2 separate regions of the Homo sapiens genome follow, and region 2 is linked to region 1. Evidence: fine-mapped expression QTL. A gene starts in region 1. The other region holds a variant in brackets. All regions are shown on one strand. Distances are from middle to middle. Region 1 holds the start of NADK (NAD kinase). Region 2 overlaps NADK (NAD kinase).

Region 1 (11,747 bases):
AGACATGCAAGTTCTTCACAAGCCCTAACCCTGCCAGCTGTCTTACAAAAACCCCACTTAAAATCACTAGAGAGTTGAACTTGTCTTGGAGGCGTCAAAAGAAAAAAAAAATTAAAAATTAAATGCAGAGAGTACCTGAGGCTCTTTCCTGGCTGGCAGTTCCTGGGAGGGAGGGGCTCCAGCAGCCGGGAGGCAGGGTGCCGGCCTGCAGTGGCCTATCTTGGTCCCTGCCCAGAGTAAATAAAGGCCGAGCATCTCAGCACGGCTGCCACACCCCCGACTCCACTTCCTCCCTTTGGGGATTCCTGTTGGCTTCTGTGTCCTAGCCTGGCACCCCGCAGACTGAGGGAGCTGGCATGTGGGACCTGGGACCCTCTGGTGCCCCTTCCCCTTGGCTTTGGCCTGGAAGAGCCAGAGCTGAGGGGGACCCCTCCCTGGGGCGGCCTGCCTGTCCCTTGGCGGGCATGGAGGCCACTGCCCCACTTTCTTAGCAAAACAGGAAATGAAAACGGGCGCCAACAACGTGCACTTGGACAGCGGCACTGACTAAGGCAGTGTGGAAAGAGGAGGATAATTCCACACTGGCTGAGTGAACTGCAATCATTTTCAAACTGTAGGCACAGAAATCTAGTTTGTAGATTGCATTAGCCTGGCCTATGCAGGAGCAGCGCCCTTTGTCGCCAGCAGCTCCGCGGTGTGGGGGCCCCTGGCGCGCTTCCTGTGTCCGGGTCACCTGGCTCCGCCCCGCTTGCGCGGGCGCACCTGTCGCAGGTGGACACAGGCAGTGGAGTGACCTGCAGCTCGCTCCGGCTGTGGGCTGTTCCTGCAGGGCCTCGGACCTCCTTTGACCAAGCGGCGCGGGGTCGCCCCTGTGCTCCATGTCCCAGGGATGGAGGTTCCCCACCTCAATTTTACTCTAGCACGTGGCACGCACGTCCACACTTGAGCAGGACAAGGTTTCCGTTCTGTCCCCTCCGTGTCACGCACCTAGCAGAGGCTGGCCCTCAGCAGGATGCGTGGGGAGGCGCGCTCTGCCCACGCGAAACGGGGACACTTCAGCGGCCTGGCGCGGCCCCCCGCTCCCCCCCGAGCCGGACCTGGGAGCCTGAGTGACTGGGGCCAATAGAAGGGCCGGCCGGGAACCGAGCGCTCCCGGGAAAGGCCGCCTCGGCCCCTCCCACTACTCTCTGGCCTCGCCCTGTCCCCTACCCCCACCCCCCAGCTCCCTTTCCTCGCTGGGTGACCTTGAGCAAGTTACTTGGCCTCTCTGTGCCTCTGGCCCCCGCGTGAAAAATGTGGACAATAAACGTACCAGGCTGTGGCCGGGCGCTGTGGCTCACGCCTGTAATCCCAGCACTTTGGGAGGCCGAGGTGGATGGATTACCTGAGATCAGGAGTTCAAGACCAGCCTGGCCAACATGATGAAACCCCGTCTCTGCTAAAAATACAAAAAATGAGCCGGGTTCAGTGGTGTGCGCCTGTAACTCCAGCTCTGGAGGCTGAGGCAGGAGAATGGCTTGAACCCGGGAGGCGGAGCTTGCAGTGAGCTGAGATCATGCCACTACACTCCAGCCTGAGCTACAGAGCGAGACTTCGTCTTATACTAGGCTGCTTGGTAAGGATCTTGTGAGGACACAGGGAGTCCCAGTCCTGCCAGGTGGTTACTGTTGATGATCCCCGCCCACTCTAGGCTCTCACCACTTCAGGGTCCTGGTCCTTGCTGCTGCCTCTGCCTGAGAGAGAAACACTTGTCCCTGGGTACCTTGGTCAAAACTGTACCCCAACCCCTGCCTGCCCCCACCAATTCTGCTTCTTGCCCGTCTGCCCCACTAGAAGGTGAACACCTGATGGACTTTGGTTTCCACTGTTGAATCCTCAGTATGCCCTGCACATGGCTGGCATCCTGGGAAAGAGGTTGCCCCTCGCCCCAAACCAGGCCAAACAGAAGACTGTCATGTGAGCAGATCCAGACACTGGCCCCTGCAGACGCCCCTATCCTGGCTTTCAGCCTGGGCAGGGCCTGTGCCGGGTGCTGGCTGGAGGCTGGATGAGATGACCAGATAGCCTGCCATACTGATGTCCTTCACTGGGAGCCTCAGTCCTTCCCAGTCATCCTTTCCCCAGGCTCCAGGCCACTTACCCTTGTGGGTTCTGGGCAGACTTCGTTCACCCAGTTTACTGGAGCCAGGCCACCTGAAGCCAACTTCCCTCTCTCCTCAGCCTCCCCAGGAGCAACCTGTACCCCAGTGCACCCCATCCTGCTCCATCCCTCATGGCCTCCGTTCCCCCTTCTCCCTCCACCCTCCCCATCCCTGCTGACCCCCAGAAGAGGATGGGTCCAGGTTTTGGGGGTTCTGAAGTAAACAACATGGGAGCCATCCTTAAAGAATACAAAAAACAATGCGAAATTATGTGAAGAGTCCACTGCCACCTTGAGCAATGGCAGCCCTGGGGCTGAGGAAGGTCAGGGCAGGGGATGCCACCCACTGCTGCCCCATCCCTGGGGCCTGGTCAGGCAGGAGGGGGCCTTTCCTGACCCCCAATCCCTTGAAGGCAGAGCCTCTTCCTGTGCACCATCTGGCAGAAGCCCCCATGATAGCCCTGGACCCTTCTGTTCCTGCTGCGGGAACATCTCTTCCCTTTGGTCTCAGCCCAAGCAAAGCTGCCTCTTGGACCATTCTGGGTGCCCTAAGGAGCCTTCCCAGCTTTGGTCTTAGTTATTGCTGGCCAGGCCTGGGGTGAGGTGTGGGTGTGAGATCTTGGCCCCTGAATCTTCAAGGTCATATCCGGGGCCTGCCCTGAGAAATTGCACAACCTGTCAGCTGAAGGAAACCACAGCCCTGGTTTTGTTTTCTCATCTCTGAAACAGGGAAGCTCTCCTGCAGGCAGTGCCCAGGCCCAGGGTAGACAAAGGGTTTTCATGCCACAGACGGGGCAGCTGCTGGAGCTCCCTACACAGCGGGACACGCGAAGGGCACCTGCTGTGTGACCTGGGGCCCACGACAGTCACTGGTTGCCTCTGCAGAAGCAGTTGACTGCCTCCACTCTAGAAGATTCTACTGAGGCCTGGCTCAGTGCCTGGCTTGTGGGTGCGCCATCTAGATCAAGCATTATTATGCTAATGATCATATGCAAAAACTCAGCTCACGCATTATTATGTTAATGATCTTATCCGCCCCCTCTCCCCCCGCCAAAGAAAAAGAACTGGGCAGCTCAAGGCCGCTTCTGTGGGTGTGGCTGGTGGTCACTTTGAAACAGTTGGGTTTGCAAAATAACCCCGGGAGAAGTTACAGAGCTTAAGAAATCCCCCAAGTTCTCATGATCCTTGCTTCCCTTTCCAGTCACCCTTGGTGCCCTGTACTTCACTGTGGTCCTGAACTGAAGAGCTGTGTTTTTCAGGAAGACTTGGCCAGGCCGTGTTCCGTGTCTCTGGATTCAAGTCCCAGGAGTCCTGACCAGAGAGCAGGTATGCGGGTGTGGGGAAGGGCTGCAGAGGACTCAGGTCCACACCGACCCTGGGCCAGGTGATCACACAGAAAGTATAGACAGGGACTGAACCTCAGAAAACAATGGCTGGGCCAGGTGCAGTGGCTTACGCCTATAATCCTAGTACTTTGGGAGGCCGAGGCGGGTGAAGTTTGAGACCCAGCCTGGGCAAAATGGTAAAACCTCATCTCTACACACACACACACACACACACACAAATATATATATATATGAATGAAGTAGTCGAGTGTGGCGGGACCTACTTGTAGTCCCAACTACTAGGGAAGCTGAAGTGGAAGGATCGCTTGCACCTGAGAGGTCAAGGCTGCAGTGAGCCGTGAGCCCGCCACTGGACTCCGGCCTGGGGGACGAATGAGACACTATCTCAGAAAAACAAAACAATGTCTGGCACCTGGGGGACCAGCAGGTTAGAGCAGCTGGTCGTGCATTGCCAGTTTACCTGACAGTGACTCGAGAGCTGAGAACTGGGTATAGGGCACATTATTGGGATATTTGAGGCCTGAAGGCGCTGATGAGCAGCCACCAGTTCAGCAAGTGCGGGCTGGGTGGGACCCGCAGTTCCAACAAACACTACAAAGTCCGCTCCTGTGGCTTTGGCCTCCTCCCCCAACTCCCCGAGTCCTCCAGCCTGTGGGGTGCGCAAAACACGGCTCCCTGGTCCCCCTAGAGGTGCCCCAGGCCACCGGGTCCTCCCTCCACTGCCAGCCTTGGGATCCCAAGCGTAGACCTCTGAGGACGTTCGTGGGCGTGCAAGGCGCACCTGGCCGCTAGAGGTGGGCGTGAGGCCGATCGCGGTTCCCCCAGGCGCAGGGCCGCCCTCCCAGCCCCGACGGACAGCCCCGAGGGAGCGCAGCGCTGCCGCAGCTGCTCTAAGTTTCGGTTCCCAAATCCGGCTCGGCCCACACCGTGTCACAGCCCGGTAATTAGGGAAGCGGCGGCGGGCGGGGCCAGCTCTCGCGGGGCACCTGCACTCCCCTGAGCCGGCCCACGTGGTCCGGGAGGTCCCGCCCGCGGTGGCGGTGAGTTGGGGGCGGGACGCCGGGCTGGGATCACAATGTCGGGGGCGCCTAGGCGTAGACGTGGCGGGCGGACCCGGGGGCGCCCTCCGGACGCGGCAGGTGAGTGGGGACGGGAGCCGGGGGCCGCCCTCCTCGGGGCGCCGACCCCCGCCTACCCGAGTCGCGGACGCCCGCCCCTGTCCCCGCTGCCCGCCTCCACTCCCTGGTCACTGCTCTCCACCGCGATTCGCCCCTCTTCCCCACCGCCCGCCTCTTTCCCGCCACGCCCGCCGCCTCCCGCCCGCGCGGGGTGTCCCGGCGCCGGTGGGACCCGGCAGACGCGCGGGACGCCCCACGTGCGCGGCAGCGCGCATGCGTGGCGGGTGCGCCTGCGCAGTGGGCGGGCGCGGCGCATTGCTGCTCGGCGGCGCCGGCGCCGGGGTCCGGGCGGCCATGGGGCAACAGGCGGCCAGGGCGCCAAGGGCCAGGTAGCGACGGCTGGCGGCGGCGCGGCGGCGGGGCCTGCGGGCTCGGTCCGGCATGTAGACGCCCCCGCAGGCGCCCGCGGCAGCGAACGGTGAGTGAGCAGACCCGGCCTGCCGTCCGCCTGGGGTCGCCCGCTGCCTGGGGTCATCGCTGCCCGCGAGCGCGCGGCCAGGCGGGGAGACACCAGGCCGGCCCTGCCCATCTGGCCTGCTGAGGAGGCCGTGGAAGTGCTGACGGGCCACCGCTCCGTCCCGAATGGGGCACCAGCACGGCCCAGGGCGAGGCTCGGCCTTGGGGACGGGTCTGAGGGAGGCCGCTGTCCGGCCTGGCTCTCCCGGGCGGGGAAGGTGGGGCCGTCCAGCCCGGACCGCGCTTGTCAGTCGCCTCTGCTTGGGCGGCCAGGTCCTCGGTGTCCGGCCTTCCGTGGGTGGTTTCAGCAAGCAGGAGGGGTCTTTGACTCGTGAAAGCTTAGAGGGGCCCAAACCTAGTGGGAAAGTATGAATAAAAGATTCTATACAGCAGTATTGGCATGGAATTCTCTAAAAACACATCTCTGATTTAGTGCCCAGTACTTGCCAGAAAATTCCAATAGTCTATGGTGATGTTCCTACAGGCGGCTGCCATCCAGTAGGTCAGATGTCAGCACCGGCCTTGAGCTCTAGGTCGTCGTTTTTTTTCTTAATTGTGGGAACAGGGCGTGCCCAGCTCCGAAGGCCTGGTGGAGTTTTCCTTCCCAGGCCAAGGACCACCCCCACCCTCCCATCCCTCCTCCCCAAGCAATGAGATTCCTTTTGGCTTCGATTCCGAGTAACAAGTTATTTTTCCTTTCTTGTTTTGGAACACACTAAGTTTTACATTCAAAAGTTCATTATTCTTGGCTCTTGATGGGAATACATTTCAAAACTCTTCTCTTCTTGTGTTCCATGTCTCTCTGACAGCCTTAGTTGGCCTGAAACTGACATGTTTGCCTTAATAAGTTTTTTTTTCCTCCTGATGTCATCTTGTCTAAGAAGCTAGTTACTTTAACACCTTGTTAGATAATTCCCTTCAAGTACTTATTCCCCTGAACATTGTCCTCTCAAGCCTCTGGAAATTTCCTGTCCCCTTGGAACTTCTCTGTAAGGCCTGTTTGCTCTCAGCAGTGACTTCACTGGGACTTTTGCAGCCACTTTATGGTGTTAGCACGCTGATTCCAAGCTACTTGAGGAATCACAGGTGCCACCGCAGTACCCAACAAAATAGCTTCATCATTTGGAGGTGTCCTCTCGAGATGTTTCTGTGTGTATATGTGTGTGTATGTTAGAAACAGGGCCTCACTCTGTCCTCCAGGCGTGTTTATGGTGGCATGATTATAGCTCACTGTAACCTCAAATTCCTGGGCTCAATTGATCCTCCCACCTCAGCCTCCTGAGTAGCTGGGATTACAGGCCTGCACCACCACACCTAGCTGATTTATAAAATTTTTTGTAGAGATAGAGTCTCACTGTGTTGTCCAGGCTAGTCTCAACCTCCTGGCCTCAAGAGATCCTCCTGCCTCCACTTCCCAAAGTGCTGATCTTACAGACGTAAGCCACTTTGACCAGTCTTTTTTTTTTTTTTTTTTTTTTAAGACAGAGTCTAGCTCTGTTGCCCAGGCTGGAGTGCAGTGGCACAATCTCGGCTCACTGCAACCTCCACCTCCCGGGTTCAAGTGATTTTCCTGCCTCAGCCTCCTGAGTAGCTGGGATTACAGGCGCCCACCACCACGCTCAGCTAATTTTTGTATTTTTAGTAGAGACGGGTTTCACTGTGTTGGCCAGGCTTGTCTCGAACTCCTGACCTCGTGATCAGCCCACCTTGGCCTCCCAAAGTGCTGGGATTACAGGTGTGAGCCACCACAGCTTGCCTCACTTGGACCAGTCTTTTTGTTTGTTTGTTTCATTTGAACTTGGAGGTGGGTTTATGTTGTTTCAGTTGGCAGCCTGCTGTTTGGTTCCAAAACAGCATTTTCTTCTTGAAACAACTGCTGTCAGCAGTTAGATTTCCAGGCTAGCACAAAAACCTGTTTGACTCATAAATCCTTGTAGTGAGGGTGTCCCAGAAAGTTGGCCAAGTCAAGAGCAGTTCTTGTGGAGTGGAGGCGGTGAACAAATAGGGGGAAAGTGGCGCTCGTGATGAAAACGGAAAACAATAGTTGATTTTATTGAGCTTCACGCTTGAGGAAATGTAGGTCTCACTTGGAAAATTAAGAGGCAGGTGGGTGTTTGCGGGACTCGACGGCCTTGCATCTGGATTACCTCCAGTCTGCAGGTGTGGTAGGATGACAGCAAGAGGGAGTGTTGAGCACACAAGCCCAGCACTTGGGGGGAGGCTGTGTCATGGCAGGAAGGTACAGGGCCTCCTCCAGCAGCTCCACTTTCTAGTCCGTATATACCTGTTGACAGTCACCGCCCAGCTTCAGCCGTTCTGGACAAGTGGGTGTCAGTAATGCTTTAGCTTGTAACCCCAGGATTTCATTTCTACTCTCTGTGCTGGTGGCTTATCATTTGCAATCTTTCCTGGCCCACAATTGCAAAGGTCCTAGCATTCATGCATGGGAATGGGGAAGTGAATAAAATGTGTGTGTGTGCTTCAGACAGATGGTGAAAAGTGTTCAGAGAAAAAGCGAAATTGAGGCAGATGGGATGTGAGGATGCCACGCACACTTTGTGCAACTGAAGAGGGAGGTGATGCCTGGCCTTCCCATTCAGAACTGCCCAGACCCCTGTTTTCTTCATCTGCCCCTAAGTAGGTGGAGCCACATCTAAAGAAAGCCCCCTTCAGACCTGTAATCTGCTTAGGTTTAATGAGGTCACAGGGTGAAGCCCTGTGGTCACATGGCTGTAGCACTTTCCAGAAAGTCTTTCTCAGTTTGTATACTGCCAGTGTGCATGCCAGCACTGGGCATTATTTACCGGGGTGAGATGAGATGGGTAATTTAGTGGGCAGTAAGTTTTTTCCCACTCAGGGTTGAGGTTGAATGTTTCCCCATTTCTGTCACTAAATAAATTTTCCTTTTTCATTTAGTCTTGCAACAAATATTGATTGAGTTCTTACATGGGAACGAACTCGTGTATTATGTTTGTATTTGTGTGTGTGTGACTTTTGTTCATGTTCTTTGCACATTTATTTATTGGCATCTTAATGTTTTCCTTGCTACTTTGTATAAGTTCGTTATGAATATTTTCTTATTGTGCTCTAGTATTTTTTTCTAATAAAACTTCCTAATACAGAGGATTTTTTTTTTTTCTTTGAGGCGGAGTCTCACTCTGTCCCCCAGGCTGGAGGGCAGTGGCGTGATCTCAGCTCACTGCAACCTCTGCCGCCTGGGTTCAAGCGATTCTCCTGCCTCGGCCTCCTGAGTAGCTGGGATGACAGGCGCCTGCCACCGCGCCCAGCTAATTTTTTTTGTATTTTTAGTAGAGACGGAGTTTCACCATCTTGGCCAGGCTGGTGTTGAACTCCTGATGTCGTGATCTGCCCGCCTCGGCCTCCCAAAATGCTGGGATTACAGTCGTGAGCCACCATGCCCGCCCTACAAAGGTTTTTTAAAATTAGATTCATGCTATGAGGAATTTGAATGCACTTTGGTGCAGCTAGCATTGTGTGTCCTTTTAAAGCAGTTAATATATCAAACAAATGAATTAAGTGTCAGTCCTGACTCACCCTTGTCAAAAAATACAGTGGTGACCGCGCACGGTGGCCACGCCTGCAATCCCAGCACTGTGGGAGGCCGAGGCACAATGGTGGCCGCGCGCAGTGGCCACGCCCGTAATCCCAGCACTGTGGGAGGCCGAGGCATAATGGTGGCCGTGCGCGGTGGCGACGCCTGCAATCCCAGCACTTTGGGAGGCCAAGGCGGGCGGATCATCTGAGGTTGAGAGTTTGAGACCAGCCTGACCAACATGGAGAAACCCCTCCATGTTGGAGAATTAAGAGGCAGGTCTCCACTAAAAATACAAAATTAGCTGGGCGTGGTGGCGCACACCTGTAGTCCCAGCTACTTGGGAAGCTGAGGCAGGAGAATTGCTTGAACCTGGGAGGCAGAGTTTGCGGTGAGCCGAGATCGCGCCACTGCACTCCAGCCTGGACAACATCAGCGAAGCTCCATCTCAAAAAAACAAAAAATACACTGGTTGTGGTATTGGAGATACTTGTTAAATATATATATATGTGTGTGTGTGTGTGTATATATATACACACACACACATACATAGGTGAAGATAATTGTTTAAAGTTGGTTTTAATATTTAATATTATTTTATAAATTAGTTTACTGCTTAGTCATCAAATTGATCTTCGCAAATAAATATGAACAGAGCTTCTAGGCTGGGTGCAGTGGCTCATGCCTGTAATCCCAATGCTTTGGGAGGTCAACACAGGAGGGCCACCAGAGCCCAGGAGTTCAAGGTCAGCCCGTTCAAGGTAGCGAGACCCTGTCTCTACAAAAAATTTAAAAATTAGCTGGACATAGTGGCTCATGCCTGTAGTCTCAGCTACATGGGAGGATCCCTTAAGCCTGGGAGATTGAGGCTGCAGTAAGCTGTAATTGCACCACTGCACTCCAGCTTAGGTGACAGAGCAAGACCCTACCTCTCAGTCTCTCAATATCTCTATTTCTCTCTCTCTCTCACACACACACACACACACACACACACACACACACACACACACACACACACACAAAATAGAGCTTCTAGGTAATGTAGCAGTAATAATACATTTTTTTTAACATTTTGTGATTTTGATTTGTTTATTTTTTATTAATGTTTTTGTAGAGACGGGGTCTTGCTGTGTTGCCCAGGCTGGTCTCCAATTCCTGGCTTCAGGTGATTCCCCTGCTTCGGCCTCCCAAAGTGCTGGGATTACAAGTGTGAGCCACTGTGTCTGACCTTTATTAACTGTTTATTTTGAAATAATTGGCTGGGTGCGGTGGCTCACACCTGTAATCCCAGCACTTTGGGAGGCCGAGGCGGGCGGATCACCTGAGGTCAGGAGTTTGAGGACCAACCTGGTCAACATGGTGAAACCCCATCTCTACTTAAAATACAAAAATTAGCCGGGTGTGGCGGCGGGCACCTGTAATCCCAGCTACTCAGGAGGCTGAGGCAGGAGAATTGCTTGAACCCTGGAGGCAGATGTTGCAGTGAGCCAAGATTGCGCCATTGCACTCCAACATGGGGGACAAGAGCGAGACTTCGTCTGGGGAAAAAAAAAATAATCATAGACTAATTCATAGGAAGTTGTAAAAATAGTACAGAGAGACCCCTGTGCCCTTCACCAGCTCCCTCTGTGTTAACATCTTTTTTTTTTTTTTTTTGAGATGGAGTTTGGCTCTTGTTGCCCAGGCTGGAGTGCAATGGCGTGATCTCAGCTCACCGCAACCTCCCCCTCCCAGGTTCAAGTGATTCTCCTGCCTCAGCCTCCCGAGTGGCTGGGATTACAGGCATGCGCCACCACGCCGGGCTGATTTTTTGTATTTTTAGTAGAAACGCGGTTTCTGCATGTTGGTCAGGCTGGTCTCAAACTCCTGACCTCAGGTGATCCGCCCGCCTTGGCCTCCGAAAGTGCTGGGATTACAGGCATGAGCCACCATGCCCGGCCCTTGTGTTAACATCTTACACCTCCATACACCTCCATAGTACAATATCAAAACCAGGGAATTGAAATACTGCTAACTAAACTATAGACCTTATTCAGGTTTCACCAGTTTTACATGTGTGTATGGCTCTATGCAGTGTTACCTCTTAAATTAATTATATAACCACTAGCAAGACACAGAACTGGTCTTGAACTCCTGGACTCAAGCGATCCTCCCGCCTCGGCCTCCCAAAGTGCTGGGATTACAGGCACAAGCCACCACACCCAACTGTATTTTAATTTTCTTAACAGTGTTTTGGCTAGGCACAGTGGCTCATGCCTGTAATCCAAGCACATTATGATGCTGAGGCAGAGAGATTGCTTGAGCCCAGGAGTTCGAGGTCAGCCTGGGCAACATGGCAAAACCTCATCTCTACAAAAAAATACAAAAATTAGTCAGGCATGGTGGTGCATGCTTGTAGTCCCTGGTACTCAGGAGGCTGAGGTGGGAAGATTGTCTGAGCACAGTAGGTAGAGGCTACAGTGAACCATGATTACATCACTGTACTCCAGCCTGGGGACAGAGTAAGACCCTGCCTAAAACAGGAAAAAAAAAAAAAATTCAGGGTTCCATTAAGTATAAAAGATTTTAAACACCACTAAGACTTTTTCCAGCTGGGTGAGGTGGCTCACGCCTGTAATCCCAACACTTTGGAAGGCCAAGGTGGGAGGATCACTTGAGACCAGGAGTTTGAAACCAGCCTGTGCAACATAGGGAGACCCCATCTCCACCAAAAAAAAAAAAAAATTTCCAGGTGTGGTGGTGCATGCCTGTAATCCCAGCTACTTGGGAGGCTGAAGTGGGAGGATTGCTTGAGCCTGGAAGGTTGAGGCTGCAGTGAGCTGAGATCACACCACTGTACTCCAGCCTGGGCAACAGTGGGAGATCCTGTCTCACAAAAAGACAAAAAAAAAAAAATTTCCAGTGCTTTCTTCTAAAAAGTTTCATAGTTTTAGTCCTCACATTTAGGTCTATAATCCATTCTGAGTTAATATTTGTATGTAGTATGAGGAAGTGGTTGGGCTTCGTTCTTTTAGACGTGGCTGTCCAGTTGTTCAGAACTATTAGGTGAAAAGATGATCCTCCTCATGTTGAAT
Region 2 (11,747 bases), 23 kb after region 1:
CTGGGCTGTCACCGAAGTTCAGGTCCCAGGAGCCACGGGGGAGTCATCCGAGGAGCTGCTCTGCAAAGTGTGGGCCCCGCGGCAGCGTGCGTCCCAGGCAGGACGGGGGTTGGCCTTGCTGCTCCAGACGCTGACGGAGCCCCTTAGGATGGAAGTGACTCGCACTTGTGCTTTTGAGGCCCAGCCCTTTCAGTGCCACTGGTTCCCGGAGTGTCTGTGACCTGTCACTGCTGCCAAATGCCTGAGGCGGGGGGCCCGACCCCTGTTTGCTTTCCCTCATCCAGTCCATCTGCAGATTCTGTCACTTTGATCCCAAAATATCCAAGCAGCTCCCCTGCACTATTGCCCGGCTGCCCTCCGCTGTGTGGACTCCTGACCACTCGCCGCGGCCTCACCATCCCTTCCCTGCACAGCAGCCACGTGGGTGACCCAGAGTGCTCCACTGCCCTCCCGGCCCCGCCGTGGCTCTGTCCCGCCATCCTGTGCTTGCTGTGTCCCTGGCACCCCACCGGGCCTCTCCCCCGCTGCCTGGTGCCCTCCCTGCACTTCCTGGTCCTGGCAGAGCCACTCCTTTGTCACTCGCATCTCAGCTGCTGCCTTCACCAGCCGTCAGTCACTCGGGCCAGGGCGGGGTCACCGGACAGGTGCATGTTCTGCCTCAGCCCTCAGACCAGGGCGTACTCAGTGGTCCCCGAGCTGCCCGAGGCCAGACAGCCCCGCAGGAGGAAGCGGTGGGTTTGTGGGGCAGCCTTGAGGGGCATGCAGCTTTCTCGGCACCCCCATGGGAGCACGCCCCCTCTGGGCTCTGTGTCTCTGGGATCATAACCTCCCGCTTCCCATCCCCGCTGTGGAGGGGCAGGGCTTCCCATGCATCTGAACTTCCGTCTTCCCTGATAGTCCAGAGCAAGACCCTGTGGGGGCGCCTGGTGAGGAGGGCACCCGCTTCCTGTTTTGTTGTCCAGGGAATTGGTGGGCCTGTGTTGTGGAGGTGCGTGAGTGCCCGTGTGTCACAGTGTGCGTGGCCACCCATGTGTGAGACAGTCTCAGTAGGAGCTGGCCAGGCGGGCCAGGCTGTGGCCATGCTGGCTTCACGCCACCCCCTGCCCTCTCCGTGCAGTACCCACAGCCGTGTGTGCCTGCAAGCTTCACGCCACCCCCTGCCCTCTCCGTGCAGTACCCACAGCCGTGCGTGCCTGCAAGGGCTGGTGTCCTGCTTTGCAGGTGACCCAGGAAGAGGTCGAGGCGCTGGTTTGTGGTCACACACAGCGGTGGGTGCCTGGGCCGGTGTACGACGCCGCTGCTGGTGGCTCTGGCTGGGCTCAGCTGAGCCTCAGGGCTGGAATGGGTGTAGGCCAGGCCACTGGGTCAGTGGTGACTGTTGGCGGGGAGAGCAGGGGGAGCCGTGTGCAGGGCGGGGGCTTTGCTGGCTGACCAGGCCGGAGGACCGTGAGCCACCTGCACGCCCTTGGGCCGGAGCCAAGCAGAGTGACGCAGCGGGCTAGGAGGCAGGGAACGCCCTTCCACCTGACTGTGGCCTGAGGGTGCCTTCCCTGGGGCCCAGCCGGTTCCGCGGGCCAGAGCGGTGGCTGGCGCAGTGCTGGGGCGAGGCTGGAGGCTGGGTACTTGGCCAGGTCTGAGGCCACGGGAACAGAGGGCTTGGTCCCACCCGGCTCAGTTAGGAGCAGGGAGCTGAAGTGTGGCCTCTTTGCTGCTGAACTGAGGACTTTTTTTCAGAAGGGATTAGGCAGGAGGACCATGTGACCAATGAGGAAACTGTTTTGTTTTGTTTGATTTTTATAAGTGTAGGAAGCTCTTTTGACTTAGTTGCTTTTACAACAACTTTACCAAGTCTCATCACAATTGTGTTTTGCTTTGAGTTTTGAGTATGAAGAGCTTAGGCTTCTAGTGTGGGCGCACAGTCAGGACCATACCGATGGGGCGGCCGCGTGTTCGCCAAGCGTGGCCTGGATGCTGTGGACACACTGGCCGGCTCCCAGCAGGCAGGGGCTACCTCGCGAGCCACATGTGTGACCCGGCAGGTGCTGAGCTCATAGGGGATGGCATGAGTGACCCCACGCCTCCCAGTAATGCCTGCACAGGGTGAGTGCTGACCAGCTTCCGAAGGTCACAAGCGATGGGCTAAGGTCTGTGGCCCTGTGGCTGCCATCGGCGTCTGTGTTGTGGTTCTGGGGGTGTTAGTGGGACGGTCACACTCCTGGGGAAGTCACTGCTGGGAAGAGGCATGGCAGGCAGCAGCTTTCTCGATTGGGCAACTTGGAACTAGCTGGCTGGCGCGGTGGTATAAGAACTTGTCCTTTGGGGCTGAGGATAGGCGGTGAGCGCTGACGACGGTGGCCAGCCCCGCTGCGCCCTCCCTTGGCTTCTGGGAACAGGAGCAGGCTCCGTGGTGTGTGTTCCCGGTTCTGGGCTGGGATGTTTTCTGTGACTAACGTGGTAATGGGAATCCCACCGGGGTGGGCCCTGCCTGTGGAGAAACACCGGGCACAGTGGTCGGGGTCAGAGCCAGCAAAGCGCGGGTGGCTGTGTCAGGGCTGCCACGGACTTTTAAACCTGTGATTTTTACTGTGAGAGTGAGTGAGGTTAAAGTCCGTTCATGCAGGGAGGTAGTGAGCTGTGTGCAGGGGGGGAAGCGGGTCCTTGAGGGGTCCTGGGCTCCCGTGGGGCCAGAAACTGTGTGCAGAGGATCCTAGGGACAGAGTCACCATGTCAACTGGTTTGGGTTTTCGTGGGGGCCTGAGGAGGGCATCAAGCAAAGAGTGGCCCAGCCATGGGCTTTCGTGGTCATTTCTGCCCCACCAGCGTCACTGAGGAGCCAGGCAGGCAAGTGGCCGGGGGCTGGGAAGGGCTGTGGTGCGTGCACTTGGGTCAGCGTGGTGCCCGGGTGGGGGTTGTGGGCCTGAGCCTGCGTGTGATGGGCCAAGCAGGTGAGAGGTGGTCACTCCGGACCCTACTGACCCCTGACCCTGTCTCTGTGGCGCGACCCTAGGCCCTGTGAGCCCGTGGCCACCGAGCACGTTTCCCTGGGAGGTGAAAACACCTTTTTAAAGATTTTTTTTTTTATTTTCTAAGTCATACACCTTTTCCGCAAGAGGGAGATCGCAGCTGGTGTGAACTCTTTTCTCCTCCCCTAAAGGCACATTCAGGACCCCGCGAGCCAGCGGCTGACGTGGAACAAGTCCCCAAAGAGCGTCCTTGTCATCAAGAAGATGAGAGATGCCAGCCTACTGCAGCCGTTCAAGGAGCTCTGCACGCACCTCATGGAGGCACGCGGGGCAGGGGGGAAGGGGGCCTGGGGTGCACATGGAGTTGGGGGGGCCTCCATCCACATCACCGCCCCGTGAGACCATGGGAACCACCTCAAGTGCTGGGCAACGGCTGCTTGTCTGGAACTGGGGACTGAGTGGGGATCTGCCGGGTGTCTGGGTTTGTGTGTGCCGCCATGGCAAGCACCAGACTGGGTGACCAACAATGAGCTGGTGGGCTCGTGGCCCTGGAGGCCGGGAAGTCCGAGATCAAGGGGCCACATCTGACGTGGGCCTTCCTGCTGTGTCTTCTCTTCAGAAGAGCAGGCGTGGGGGTTGCGGCGCCCAGGAAAGCCACTCCTGAAATAACAGCCTTAGTCAATTCCTGAGAGGGAGCCCCCTCCGCCCAGTCATCTCTTAAAGGTCCTGCTTCCTCCTGGCGCGTTGGTGATGAAGTTTCAGCGTGAGCGTGGGGGGGCGGGCATGCAGGCCACGATGCCAGGTCTCTGACCACAGCGCCCGTGAGTCGGGAACCTCCCTGCAGGAGGGTGGGGTCTGCAGGTGGAATGAGCAGGTTGGCACTTTGCTTCCAGGAGAACATGATCGTGTATGTGGAAAAGAAAGTGCTAGAAGACCCTGCCATCGCCAGCGATGAAAGCTTTGGGGCAGTGAAGAAGAAATTCTGTACCTTTCGAGAAGGTGGGCTGTCAGCAGCTCTGTCCTTGGTTTCTCCAGCACAGTTCCCCGCCCCATTGGAAGCTTCTGGCACTGTTGCCCTTGTCATTGGTGTCTGCGCACTGCGCCACAGAGGGGCCACTGTGTGACAGCCTCTTCTTGGTTTTGCTTTGTGTTTCCTAGATTATGATGACATTTCCAATCAGATAGACTTCATCATCTGCCTGGGGGGAGACGGGACGCTGCTGTACGCTTCCTCGCTTTTCCAGGTGAAGCGCTGACATTTCCAGACCCACACCAGGTTCTAGTCTAGGTGCTGCGTAACGAGGGGCTCACAAGCATGGCTTCCATTGCTTTTCACCCCTTTATACGAGAGCAGTCACCTAGAGCGGCCAGCACTGAGGCCCATGGTGGCAGCCCGGTGGGGTGCGACGGTGGGGCCAGGGGCAGTGTGGACACAGTGCTACGGCTGGGGGTGGCCAGCGCCCGCCTGGGACAGCAGGGAGTGGCGCAGGGTGGTGGGTCCTGGGAAACGACCTCGCCTACTGGCCCATCCCCTCTGGGCCTCCCTTGAGCTCCTCTTCCTGGTTTCTCAGCAGCACAGCTCTCCCCTGGGGCTGTAGGGCCACGCTGTGTGGGGGACCCTGGCTCTGCCCTTGGCCCACTGCATGTTGGTGACACCGGAAATGCCCGCAGCCCGCCCTGCTTTTCTCCCCATCTCCCCATTAGCACCTGTGGGGCGCGAGGCTCCGACCCCAAGGCTGCCTCCCACCCGCCCTCGCCAGCTCCCCCAGCCCTCCGTGCCCAGGGGGCCGCTCAGCCCTGCCACCTTTGTTCCTCACCAGCTCCCCACACCAACCTTGGCCCTGGTGGCCCGGCCCACCCTGGCCTGCGACGTCCCCCTCCGCTTGTCCACATGGCCAGTCCCTCCTGCAGAGGGTCGGGGTGCTGTCCCCACAGAGCTGGGTCCCTCCTGAGGTGCTGCTGGAAAGCTGGGTGGTGCGGGGGTGCACGGCGTGGGCACTGAGTGACCTCTCCGTCGGCTCACAGGGCAGCGTCCCTCCGGTCATGGCCTTCCACCTGGGCTCCCTGGGCTTCCTGACCCCATTCAGCTTTGAGAACTTTCAGTCCCAAGTTACTCAGGTGATAGAGGGTGAGTTGGAATGTTCTGGAGCCCACAGGAGCTCTGATCATGGCGCTGCTGTCTCGCTTGCTTGCGGGGGGTTTATTTTCATTTAATGATGCATGGAGCAACATTTAAAGGTTTCAAGATTCAGGGATTTCTAAATCTTGAGTGGTTCAAACCTTTTACTGACACTGAGAAGTTTCAGCAGATCACAGGTTGAAGCTGCCATGTGTGTTGGGCAGAAGTGAGCTGATTCTCACTCTCAGAAGGCACAGAAGTGTCGGCCGGGCGCGGTGGCTCACGCCTGTCATCCCAGCACTGTGGGAGG[T/C]CGAGGCGGGCGGATCACGAGGTCAAGAGATGAGACCATCCTGGCCAACACGGTGAAACCCCGTCTCTACTAAAAATACAAAAATTAGCTGGGCGTGGTGGTGCGCACCCGTAGTTCCAGCTACTTGGGAGGCTGAGGCAGGAGAATCACTTGAACCTGGGAGGCAGAGGTTGCAGTGAGCCAAGATCACACCACTGCATTCCAGCCTGGGTGACAGAGTGAGACTCCATCTCAAAATAAAAAGAAAAAGGCACAGAAGTGTGTCAACTTGGGAGAAGAAAGAGCCCTCTGACTCCCACTGGCCTCCCTGGGGTGGGGCCCCTGACCCCACTGACTTCCCTGATGCATGCCCTCTGACTCCTGCTGGACCTCAGGGAACGCAGCTGTTGTTCTCCGGAGTCGGCTGAAGGTCAGGGTGGTGAAGGAGCTCCGGGGGAAGAAGACGGCCGTGCACAATGGGCTGGGTGAGAACGGCTCGCAGGCTGCAGGCCTGGACATGGATGTCGGGAAGCAGGCCATGCAGTACCAGGTGAGTGGAGGCGCCTCGGCCTCGGTGAGGGGCCCAGGGTGGGGCGACTTCGGTCCCAGGGATGAGGACCTTCCGGAGAGCCCGGCTGGGTGAGACGGAGGGTGTCTGCGAGCCGTGCGGCATCCCCCGCCCTGAGTGTGCAATGCTGTCGCCCCTCCAGGTCCTGAATGAGGTGGTGATTGACAGAGGCCCCTCCTCCTACCTGTCCAATGTGGATGTCTACCTGGACGGACACCTCATCACCACGGTGCAGGGCGACGGTAAGGCCCGCAGCACTGTCCTGGGGCCCTGAGCGTCCCTCGGGCGGGAGTGACGCCTGCGCCTGTCCCTGTCAGGAGTGATCGTGTCCACCCCGACGGGCAGCACGGCGTATGCGGCCGCGGCCGGGGCCTCCATGATCCACCCCAACGTGCCGGCCATCATGATCACGCCCATCTGCCCCCACTCGCTGTCCTTCCGGCCCATCGTGGTCCCCGCAGGGGTCGAGCTGAAGGTCAGAGCCAACGACACTCCTTTTCCGGTTTGTGAGTCATTTGACCCCGTGCAACACAAAGCCGGGACCTAGCACCCCGCTCTGCCATGCTGGCTCCAGCCTCAGACGCGGCCTCGTCATCCTAGGGCCATCCTGTGCCCCCTCAGATGCAAGCCTTCCCTTGCTGGTGCCCGAGTTCTGTCCATCAAGGTGCCCAGGGCCCGGGTCTGAGGGGCTTTCTGCCATTGTTGGTCTCTGGCGGTGCTGAGCTGGGCCGGTGCCTGTAGGACGTGCACTGCACCGTCCGCAAGGCAGGGTCAGAGCTGCCCAACCTTCGACCTCTGGCGAGCACTCAGGGGTGGGTGCCTAGAAGCGTCCTCCCCACAGCTGGGGGCCCACACCTCTCCCTGCTTGACCCTCAGATCATGCTGTCACCTGAAGCAAGGAACACAGCATGGGTGTCCTTTGATGGACGGAAGAGACAAGAGATCCGCCATGGAGACAGGTGTGGGCTGCATGCCGGGCTGGGCGCTGCCTGCCAACCTCCTCCCCGGGCCAGGCAGCGCCTGCCCTCTTGCGGTTGGCCTGTAGACACAGCTTGTCCCCTAGGGCACCACAGGGCCTGAGTCCCTGGGTCTTGCAGCATCACAGTCGGGGCACCCGTCCTGGGGGCAGCGGGTCGCATACGGTGGCACATGCAGGCCTGGCCCCAGCAGAGGCCTGAGGGTGTCCCCCCTGGCACTGCTGCCCACCCCCACCCACCTCCTGGGACCTCACCCCTGAGGGCCCTGGGGCAGAGTTTGTCAGTTCCCTGCACCGTCCCCTCCAGGACCTGGGATGGCTCTGTCCCAGCACCCATGGGGCACTGCTCAAGCCTGCCTCGGGGAGGGGCTGCCCGGCCCCACAGGAAAAGAGTCCCGGCCATTCCCAGGGAGGGAGGGAGGAAGGGTTCTTGGCCGGGGGTGGGCCTTTCTGGAAGCCCTGGCTCAGGCTGCTGCTCTCCCGTCCCAGCATCAGCATCACTACCTCATGCTACCCGCTCCCCTCCATCTGTGTGCGGGACCCCGTGAGCGACTGGTTTGAGAGCCTCGCCCAGTGCCTGCATTGGAACGTCCGGAAGAAGCAAGCCCACTTCGAGGAGGAGGAGGAGGAGGAGGAGGAGGGCTAGGTCAAGCCCCTATCCAGGCCCGAATCCTTCCGCTGCCCTCCAAGCGCCCTCTGGGGACAGACCAATCTGCGTGTGTCTGTGACCGCCTGTCTCAGTGGCACGGCCACTTCCTTTCTGTAGCTGGGTTAGAGCCTGGGTCTGCCTTTTGTCCAGATCAGCTGTTTTTTTAAAATGTCTGACTTTTTTTGCATTTCTAAAGAAGCGTGAGAAATGGGCTGGGAGTGCTTCTGTCCTGCTGACACCCCGCGGTGGGTCCCTGGAGCGCGGCCTCCAGCTGCCGCAATTTCCATGCCAGGATATTTTTCCGCAAATCAGTCGGTTGAAATTCAGAGGAGTCAGAATGACTCGACCTGTCCTTCAATGTTGATAATAAATGTCTCAGCCAAAAACCTTCCTTGAGCTGCCATGCTTTTCCCCTTGACCTGCACCTCTTCCCCTAAAACTTCTGCAGGGAAGCCCCTGGCGGAGGCGCCATTGAAAGCATGGTCTTGCCAGTGGCTGGCAAGGCGGTTTTGTTCTGCTCAGTTTCTGGAGAGGGTTGGATGCGTCCCCTGCCATCCAGCCCTCCCCGCTTGAGGCCAGCACTGAGTCTGGGACACTCAGCGGGAAGGGGGCTGGCATCGCCAGCGACCCACACATTCCTCACGTAGCTTCTGCTCCCAGGAAGGTAGTTTAAATCCTGTATATACTTTTTAGAGACTCTTTTAAACTTTCTGAAGTGCTGATGTACATACTTTCTCGTACACACTTTTGTGAAGATTTCAAGGGGAAGGGAGTCGTCTGCCATTCAATGTTTACATTTATGTTCTGCAAGACGCTGTCCTCAGGGACCATTAGGGGACCATTCTGTTCAGTGCGATCCTGATGGTCCGGGAGATGAGGGTTTCCGGGGCTAGTGATCGTGATCCCTTTTATTTGCAACTGTAATGAGAATTTTTCACACTAACACAGCGAGGGACTCAACACGCTGATTCTCCTCCTGCCTCTCCCGTGAGTCTCCAGCCTGCCCAGCACCGGCAGCTGTGGAGCACGTGGATGCTGCCTACCCCGGCGCCCGCGTCTTCCACGGGCACAGGTGTGTGGAGGCCGTGGTCGGACCCTGGTGTCCTGGTTACTGCTGCCCGGGTGTCTTTTTTTTGAGTAACTGCTCTCTGAGTTTTGCACACGAAGTTGCCCTCATCTGCTGGAGATCGATAAGGAAGGCACAAGACGTTCTCCTCTGCCCGTGAGGAGCTTCCCGCAGCCGCCTGGCCCAGCCTGGGCACGTTCTCCGAGGCATGTGTCTCCCTGCTCACCCTCGTCTGGGCACCTCAGCATCTGTGGACTTGAGCGTCCAAAAACCCTGAGTGTGATTCTGGGCAGCCGGCCTGGCTTGAAGTCCGCCATGACCCTGGGCACAGGGGAAGCCCAGCCGTGGGCTTAGGAGAGAGGGACCAGCGCCCAGCGTTAGGGCTGGAAGACGGCAGTGTTCAGAATTCCAGCCGCTCATCTGAACACAGAAGGTGTGAACTGACCTCTAAAGCAGCGTGAGATGGGAATGATCTAGAAAACTTTGGATTTTTGAAGTAAATTTTAATGTTTCATATTAATTTCTTGAAAATGTATTAAATGTCATTGAAAGCCTTATTACGCTTTTCAGATCCTTTCAATAAACAAGACTTGTAGAAAATAAGCTGGGTTAATAACAGCTTTCTTCTGACGCCGTGGAACCAACATAGAGGGGTCGGGCAGGGTCACCCCCATTAAATCCTAGCCCCAAAATGCCCATCCACCGAGTGTGGGGCCGGCAGGGCATCCTCCCCAAGGGGCTGGGGGTGCCGCTGCCTCTTCCGGGCAAGGGGGCAGTGCCCTGGCGGGGGTAGGGGTAGACAGAAGGGACTCAAACCCGAGGGGTGGTGTCGACTCGGGCAGGCTGTGTTGCTCCCGGAAGAGCCACTGAGACCAGGGGGAATTGAGTCCCTGCATTCCCGGGGCCAGCAGGGCTGGAAGAGCCCCTCCATCCGGGCTGCCTAACAGGGGCAGCCACAAGCCAGGTGAGGACCCGCTGGCCCCTGGGCCCAGCCTGGGCACCGATATCGGCCTCCCTCCCTCCACTGACGTGGTCCTGCGCCCCGCAACCCCCCCACCCCGCACCGTCCCTGTTGTCCTAACAAGGCCCAGATGAATGTGGCTCAGGGCTTTGCCGGCAGCCAGTCTGCACTACACGCGTGCAAGTCCAGGAGAGACCAAAACGACCACCCTGTGGACACCTGCGCCTCCAGCACCCTGCCCCGTTTTGGGGACGTGAAACCCTGGGCTGTGGGCCCCGCCCTACCGACCTGGAGCGCCTCTGCCTCCCCGGCCTGGAAGAGGCTGTGGGTCAAGCCTAACCTTCTCGGCTTTGGGGAGCACAGAGTCCCCAAGACATCCTCGGGGGCTGCCGGGCTCAGGCTCTGGGGCATGGAAACCTTTTCGAGCCTGAAACGGCGGCATCCACGGTCCCTGCCGGGCCAGTGCCAGCCTGCACCCTGGGCACCTCTGTGCTGGGCCCGGCACCCCCACCCTGCCTCCCACAGCCAGGGTGTCTCCTCAGGTCAGGTCCAAAGGGGCTGCAGCCAGGCCCAAAGACCCAGCCCAAGTCCCATGGCTCCTGCGGGGTCTGGGTGAGGCCTGTCCTGCTGGGAGCCCAGGAGGCTGCGACCCTGCCTGGAGCTGGAAGTCTGGTTGGGGGGTGGTAGCAGGGTGGGGCGGGTACAGGGTAGAGGAGCCGGCCGGAGGAGCCCAGGGAAGGCTGGCGGTGCTGGGGATGTAGGGGACAGCAGGAGCTGGTACATCACCACGTGGTTCAGCTGCTTCCAGCACATCCCGCCCCAGAAGGATCTCAGCCAGGGCATGGGCTGCCTTCAGGGTCTGGCAACACCAAGGAGCCAAGGCAGGTGGTAAACCGAGGCCACAACCTCCTTAGGAGCCTCCACAACCAGGGCGCACAGCTGAAAGAGGAAGGAGGCCCCTGCGGAGAGCAGGGTGGGCAGGAGTGGGTGGCCAGGACAGGTGGTGCCCAGTGACCGGCGGTGGGGACCCGGGAGCCACAGAGGAGCTGGCTCAGCCACCCCTGTGCAGGAGGCACCTGGGGCCTGTACTCAGGCCTCACCCAGGGCTGCCCCACGCCCACATCCTGCTGACAAGCCCCCAGGACCAGCATCCCCACCCAGCTGCTCTGTGCAGAGGGGACAGGAGGCCAGACAAAAAGATGGACAAACACCCACGTAGATTCACACACACACAAACAGACACACCACACAGAAAAATATGCATGGACGCCACTGAGACACGCTAACACCACACACTCAGACACAAACACACCACACACACAGACTCACACAGATACACACAGAGAAAAATACACATGGACGCCACTGAGACACATACACTCAGAGACAGGCAGTGCGCTCTGGGCAACAGGAAGCTTCCTCCAAACCAGTGAAGGGCCCAGGAAAGCATGAGCGGCCCTGACGTGTATGGAGGGTCCAAAGGCTGCGGGAACTTGCCCGTGAGTGACCTTGGCCTGGAGAACTCCCCGGCCTCAGTTTCCCCACCTGCTGATGAGGACAAACTGCAGGGGCATGAGCGGCTGCTGCTCCCCTACTTCTGCGCAGGTGGCCGAGTGGCCTGCAGGCTGGGTCTCCAGGTGGGGACGCTTCCTTCTTCCTCCCCACCCATGGGGCCTTGGCACAGACCCTTCTCTGGGGCCTCAGTTCACACCCCACACTTCCCTGCTGTCCTCAACGCCCCTTGGGAAACTTCAGCTCCTTTGGGCCGGCAGGTCTCACCCTCCTCCCCAGCGGGAGCCCAGACCCAGACTGAGGCTGGCTGGGGGACAAGGAGGAGCCTGTGGGCCGGGGGGGACCCCGAAGGGGGCAGGACAGAGCTAGCCATGACTGCTTTCCTTCCTGCCTTCTACATCATCCAGGACCTGAAGGCAGAGGAAAGGAATCCCACAGCCCATGGGCCGCTCAGCCTGGGTAGACCCTGCCCCGAGGTCAGCAGACGGCAGGGAGACCCAGAGAGGCTGTGAAGCAAGAGCAGCACAACCCGGAAGGTCCCAGTGAGCCAAGGATGCACTTTGGAGGCGGGGTTTGCACAGCGCCTGGACCCATCAGTCTCCCACACAGCGAGGGCGTCCTAACTGATTCCTAACTGACTCCAC

The links.
Region 2: its variant is fine-mapped to the expression of NADK in whole blood (TOPMed, PIP 0.98).

The regions. Positions count from the first base shown.
Region 1 is chr1:1,771,624-1,783,370 of GRCh38, reverse strand. NADK (NAD kinase) reads left to right here and starts at 4,901. Exons shown (of 12, transcript NM_023018.5): 1 at 4,901-5,082. RefSeq lists enhancers at 2,696-2,795, 2,806-2,875, 2,886-2,945, 2,956-3,125, 8,762-9,263 and 1 more and silencers at 307-601, 4,186-5,385.
Region 2 is chr1:1,748,718-1,760,464 of GRCh38, reverse strand. It overlaps NADK (NAD kinase), which reads left to right. Exons shown (of 12, transcript NM_023018.5): 4 at 3,155-3,284; 5 at 3,857-3,962; 6 at 4,122-4,207; 7 at 4,989-5,091; 8 at 5,767-5,921; 9 at 6,082-6,181; 10 at 6,257-6,414; 11 at 6,816-6,898; 12 at 7,405-9,233. The coding sequence ends at 7,561. It overlaps LOC112268218 (a long non-coding RNA gene), which reads right to left. Exons shown (of 2, transcript XR_002958243.2): 2 at 8,723-10,550. Among named protein-coding and RNA genes, the nearest start is that of NADK, 24 kb to the left of the region's middle. RefSeq lists enhancers at 1-471, 6,812-7,341. The variant T/C (reference allele first, on the strand shown) is at 5,393.